2 separate regions of the Homo sapiens genome follow, and region 1 is linked to region 2. Evidence: fine-mapped expression QTL. A gene starts in region 2. The other region holds a variant in brackets. All regions are shown on one strand. Distances are from middle to middle.

Evidence for each region.
Region 1: its variant is fine-mapped to the expression of NAA80 in whole blood (TOPMed, PIP above 0.99).

Annotation. Positions count from the first base shown.
Region 1 is chr3:50,244,428-50,247,324 of GRCh38, reverse strand. All of the region lies in intron 1 of GNAI2 (G protein subunit alpha i2), which reads right to left. Among named protein-coding and RNA genes, the nearest start is that of GNAI2, 9.7 kb to the right of the region's middle. RefSeq lists enhancers at 255-970, 1,139-1,238, 971-1,686. The variant A/G (reference allele first, on the strand shown) is at 1,320.
Region 2 is chr3:50,297,984-50,300,880 of GRCh38, reverse strand. It overlaps NAA80 (N-alpha-acetyltransferase 80, NatH catalytic subunit), which reads left to right and starts at 1,476. Exons shown (of 2, transcript NM_001200016.2): 1 at 1,476-1,668. HYAL3 (hyaluronidase 3) reads left to right here and starts at 1,476. Exons shown (of 4, transcript NM_003549.4): 1 at 1,476-1,668. It overlaps HYAL1 (hyaluronidase 1), which reads left to right. Exons shown (of 4, transcript NM_033159.4): 4 at 81-988. The coding sequence ends at 398. RefSeq lists an enhancer at 1,743-1,882.

The DNA of each region.
Region 1 (2,897 bases), 54 kb after region 2:
GAAGGAGGTCCAGACTTGCCACAGCCCTGATGTCCACTCTGATCCTTCCTGAGATCCTCAAGAGCTTCAGCTCCTTTCCTGCCCTTTCTCTGGCACCTCATCTGTGAAATGGGACAACGCTGTCTCCTTCTGAGAGATGGGTAAGGATTAAATGCAAAGCTCTTCTCACAGTGTGGGGCACATGTGAGCATTCAGGTAAAAGTTATCACTATTTATCTACCCTTTGAAAGAGTACAGATTTCCCCAAACCTCTCATTTCCTGCAACCTGCAGAGAAGACTGCTGTGGTCATCTCATTTGAAGGAAAGCTTCTGAAGATTTTCAGATAAAGAGCAGATGAAGAGCAATGGACAGCGGCTAACAGGCTGATTCAGAGCTGTGGTGGTTCCCTGCTGGGACTCAGCATAACCTGGGACAGGAGTCAGAGCTACTGGCTCCTCTGTTGGCTTTCCGCTGTGTCGTCACTTCCCTTCAGTATAACCCGGCACTCCTACACAGCTGGGGCCTCCTTCCTGCCCAGGAGCCTCACTGCTGACATTGCTCACTGGCTGCACACACCCAGAAAGCCAGGCACACCTCCCTGGAGAGAACCCCCATACTGGTGGGCTCCGTGGGAACACGTGGGGCCAGGAAGAGCAGCCAGCTGACGTGGCAGGCCCGAGGGCAGAGATTCTCAGAAGCAGCAGCGGCTGGGACCACAGGGTAGACTTGGGCAGCGGCCCAGCTCAAACCCACAACACCAGGCCCGCCCACACTGCCACAACTCCCCAGCCTATCCCAGTGGGATATGGTGGGGCAGGTGGGGGTAGCCCTGAGCCCACCACAAAGGCAGCCCGGACACCACCTCCTTCTCTTATCCCAGGAAGGTGCCACATCTCCAGCTCAGCCTGTGGTTCTCAGATCCCGTGCACCCCCACGTCCCCTGCAGTCCTAGGGACCCATGCCCCGCCACCACCAGGGGGCGCCCGGCAGCCGGAGACACTGTGGAAGGAAGTGGGGGCTGGGCAGCACTGGGGAGCGTTTTGTTTCAGAAAAGCAGCCTCAGCCAGGGGCGACTGGGGAAGGTGTCCCACCCACCAGCCCGTCCCTGGGAAGCCCCCAGCCTGCAGAGACTCGGCACACACAGAAACCATGGCAACGGGAGGGAGGGGCAGAGACCCCGCCAGACAAAGGCCCTCTGAGCCCCGCCCCTGGCGTCTCTTCCTTCCTCCAGGTGCTGCTCCCCGGCCCCCCTCATTCCCTCCGAGAAGGCTCAGCACGGGTCCGGCACTGGGAGGCAGGGACTCGAGGTCTTGAAAGGGACCGGCAACACTCCCACCC[A/G]TGTGTGTGGCATGGCCCTATAACGGATGCCTGAACAGACCAACAGACTCCACACCTCCCTCCCGCCAGTCTCTGGCACTCGGCTGCCTCCAGCGGCTTCCAGGGGTTCACAGTGCCCAAAGGGGAGCACTACCAAGCAGGGCCTGGCTTCCTACTGCCAAGTCAGAGATCTCTGTGTTAGGGAAACTGAGGCCTCAGGTCCTGCCCACACATGGGAAAGTCTTTCTGGGGCAAGGTGTGTCTCCCTCAGTGGGGCCCTTTCCACTGCACAGAGGGAAACTCAGGCACCGGGTGAGGAAGGCTGGCCTGATATAAAGGAGGCCCCAGACCTGTTCATCGCTGGCGCCTCAGGCCCCAGGTACCGCCTGTGCAGGAGCCAGGAGGTGCTGGACAAGACGCGGATCACGCGGAGCTGGGCCATTTGGCACCGTCTCCCTGGAGGCCTCTTCATTTCAGGCATCCCTCCGCTGTTCCCAAGGCACCTGAATGACCTCTTTTCCCTTCTGATTCATGGCGGTGGACTCTGGGAAAGATAACGGGAGCCTAGGCCTCATCTATGAAATGTACCCCTTGAGGGAGGGTGCCAAACCCAAGGCCTGCCCTGAGTAGCCTCTTCAAAGTCACCCCAAACTGCCTCAGGGCCCAACCCAAGCCAGCAGCTGTCCTTGTGTCCACAGGCCAGGAGACCATGCTAAGAATCACGGCACTGGCGGGGCGGGGTGGCTCACGCCTGTATTCCCAGCACTTTGGGAGGCTGAGGTGGGCGGATCACCTGAGGTCAGGAGTTCGAGACCAGCCTGACCAACATGGAGAAACCCTGTCTCTACTAAAAATACAAAATTAGCCGGGCATGGTGGCACATGCCTGTAATCCCAGCTACTCTGGAGGCTGAGGCAGGAGAATCACTTAAACCTGGGAGGCGGAGGTTGTGGTGAGCCGAGATTGCATCACTGCACTCTAGCCTGGGCAACAAGAGCGAAACTCAGTCTCAGAAAAAAAAAAAAAAAATCACAGCATCACAGATTCTAGTGCTGGATACAGAGAGGGAAGAGGACAGTCTGAGGTCTCATGGTGAGGAACTGGACCCTCTGGGACCCACAGTCTTGGGTGGCCATGAGGATGCACGGGTCTCTGCTCTGTGCATGGCTTCATGGCCCAGAGAGGCTTGGACGCTTCTGCTCTGGCTCTCCTAAGCCTTCCTCAGCCCCCTCAGTCCCTTACGGCCTGGCCTGGCAACACAGCAGAACCCCTAGGAACCCCTACAAGAGAGGGCAAGGCCCCACTAGGCCACAGCACTGAGATTCGGAGGCCAAGGAGCAAGAGGAACCAGCCTCAACAACTATCATGCAGTCATCAGCCAACACCATGGCCACATTCTACCACCACACAGTACCGTACGTGCACCCAGCACTGAGCCTGTGCTCACAGTGCAGCCCTAAGGAACATGCTTTCATTTCACTCCTCTGGACAATTCCCAGTCTCAGAGGCCCTCACCATGGACTTCAATAGCTTCTGAGCCTTCCCCAGGCTTGGTCTCAGTCTAAGACTGGGGCTTATGGGAGAACAAGCATAATATTA
Region 2 (2,897 bases):
AGCAGGTGAGTGCCTCAGTGCCCTGGGTGGGTCCATACATGGCCATGGTGTCCCTGACGCTATCCTCCCTTCCCACCTAGGAATCATGTCAGGCCATCAAGGAGTATATGGACACTACACTGGGGCCCTTCATCCTGAACGTGACCAGTGGGGCCCTTCTCTGCAGTCAAGCCCTGTGCTCCGGCCATGGCCGCTGTGTCCGCCGCACCAGCCACCCCAAAGCCCTCCTCCTCCTTAACCCTGCCAGTTTCTCCATCCAGCTCACGCCTGGTGGTGGGCCCCTGAGCCTGCGGGGTGCCCTCTCACTTGAAGATCAGGCACAGATGGCTGTGGAGTTCAAATGTCGATGCTACCCTGGCTGGCAGGCACCGTGGTGTGAGCGGAAGAGCATGTGGTGATTGGCCACACACTGAGTTGCACATATTGAGAACCTAATGCACTCTGGGTCTGGCCAGGGCTTCCTCAAATACATGCACAGTCATACAAGTCATGGTCACAGTAAAGAGTACACTCAGCCACTGTCACAGGCATATTCCCTGCACACACATGCATACTTACAGACTGGAATAGTGGCATAAGGAGTTAGAACCACAGCAGACACCATTCATTCCATGTCCATATGCATCTACTTGGCAAGGTCATAGACAATTCCTCCAGAGACACTGAGCCAGTCTTTGAACTGCAGCAATCACAAAGGCTGACATTCACTGAGTGCCTACTCTTTGCCAATCCCCGTGCTAAGCGTTTTATGTGGACTTATTCATTCCTCACAATGAGGCTATGAGGAAACTGAGTCACTCACATTGAGAGTAAGCACGTTGCCCAAGGTTGCACAGCAAGAAAAGGGAGAAGTTGAGATTCAAACCCAGGCTGTCTAGCTCCGGGGGTACAGCCCTTGCACTCCTACTGAGTTTGTGGTAACCAGCCCTGCACGACCCCTGAATCTGCTGAGAGGCACCAGTCCAGCAAATAAAGCAGTCATGATTTACTTAGCTGTTTACTGAGCGCCTAAAATGTCCAGGCCCCGGTATCCAAAGGGCACAGGAAAGGCTTGTCACTCTCACCAGATCTGACGTCAGTCTAAGGGCGGCTGCTTCCCAGGGTGGGGCCCAAATTTCAAGAGGAAGCCCCACCTGATCGGACCGTTTCCAAGCTGTCCTGGGGCAGGAGGCCGGCGGGAACCGAAGCTAGACTTGTCAGAGCCTGGGGCGGGGCTGGCGGAGGCAGAGCCAGCTGGAGGCGGGGCCTGCGCCTGGCTGAAGTGACGTGCTGGGCTGGGGCAGGGCCTGGAAGAAGCCAAATCGAGGCGGGACCTAAGCTGTGACGCAAGGAGAAGGAGGAGGGGCCTGTATGGGGCCGGGTGGGGAGGAGGCGGACTCAAATGGAGATGGGGTGGGGCTCAGCAGGGGCGGAGCCAGGGTAGAGACTGAGTCGGCGCCTGGCGGGTGTTGTGACGCGCAAACCAGGGGCGGGTTCTAAGCGGCGACGCGCGGGTGCTGGGAGGCCTTAGAACGCCGTGGCGTGCCGCAGGACGCGACGGCTGCAGAACATCCGCCGCACCGCTGGGGGCCAACGTTGTCGGACCGAGGAGTCCGAGGTGGCGACTGAGTGAGATACCCAGCTGTGCGGAGCTAGGACGCGGAACATCCCAGAGGCCAGCATCAACATGTCAGTACCGCACCCTTCCCATTTGCTGCCTGTAGGTCCACCCCGCGCGTGCGGTCCCCAAGTGGCCATGCCACCCTGCACGCCCTCCCCGCGTCAGTCGTTCGTTTCCAGACCATGCCGAGCCACACCTGCCCACAGAGTCGAGCTCTCGAAGTCCTCATTCCCAAAAGCTCCACAGCCTGTGACCCACTAGGAGGGAGGGGGAAACCGAGGCCCGGGAGAGACGGAGAAGCCACTCTCTGAGGACCCCGGAGCCCCGCCCACAGTGGGTGGGGTCGGCACTGAAGGGGTTAAGGCCGCGGGGAAGCCCCGGGCTCAGCCCTAGGGGCGGATCCTGGGGCTTCCTCCCTCTAGACCAAAGGGTGCGGCTGCTGCAGAGGTGGCTGATGCAGGTGAGGGGCTTACAGCCCTGTGAATGGTGTGGGAGGTGAGGGGAGGGGGGTGCCTGTTACTGACCAGTGTTTAATTGGCCTCAAGCTCAGGAGAGGTAAGGGGAGCCAGGAGGCCCCCTCTGGAGCAGGTGAGTAGAAGGAGGGGGCTCAGCTGCCCGCCCACGACTAGAAAACCCCCAGCATAGACCTGCCGGACGGCAGGACCTTGGTTAAGATGGGAAAACAGTAGGGTTTGGGCACAGGAGGTCTGGGCCCCCAACCTGGTGACCGTTGGACACCCTGTGGATATAGGAAGGAAGCTGTGGTCCTTATCTAGGGTGCCTGCGAAACTCAAGCCAGTGGGGAACCAAGCCTGCAGAGGCAATACTGCTGTGTGACTGTGGGCCAGGCCCAGTGCTGGTGCTGCTGGGGCCCCATCTGAGGAGACAGTTGGGTCTATATCCAAAGTGTCCTGAGATGGGCAGAGTTGGGAAGGGGGCCATGGGCTCCAGGTGGGGAAGGCAGTCAAGACAGGCCAAAGCTCAGCCTGATGGGTGCATGAGTGGGGCCCCAGGATCCACTAAGGCAGTGGGCATAGCCCAGGTAGTTGAAAAGGCTGGGAGCTGGAGGAGACTCGGAACATAGGGAGAAGAAAGGGACAGGAAGACTCCCGGGCAGTTTTTCCTATGGAGGGAACCTTGGGTAGGTTTGAGCAGGGGGTATAGTGTCTGCTTTGCATCTTCTATCCCATGCCCTAGTGGTGGACTAGGAGGACTACTGGAAGACAGAAGGCCAGCAAGTAGATTGGGTCGGCTGTTTTATAGACCTGGTGGTTACAGACCCCCTGTGAGGGGAGGT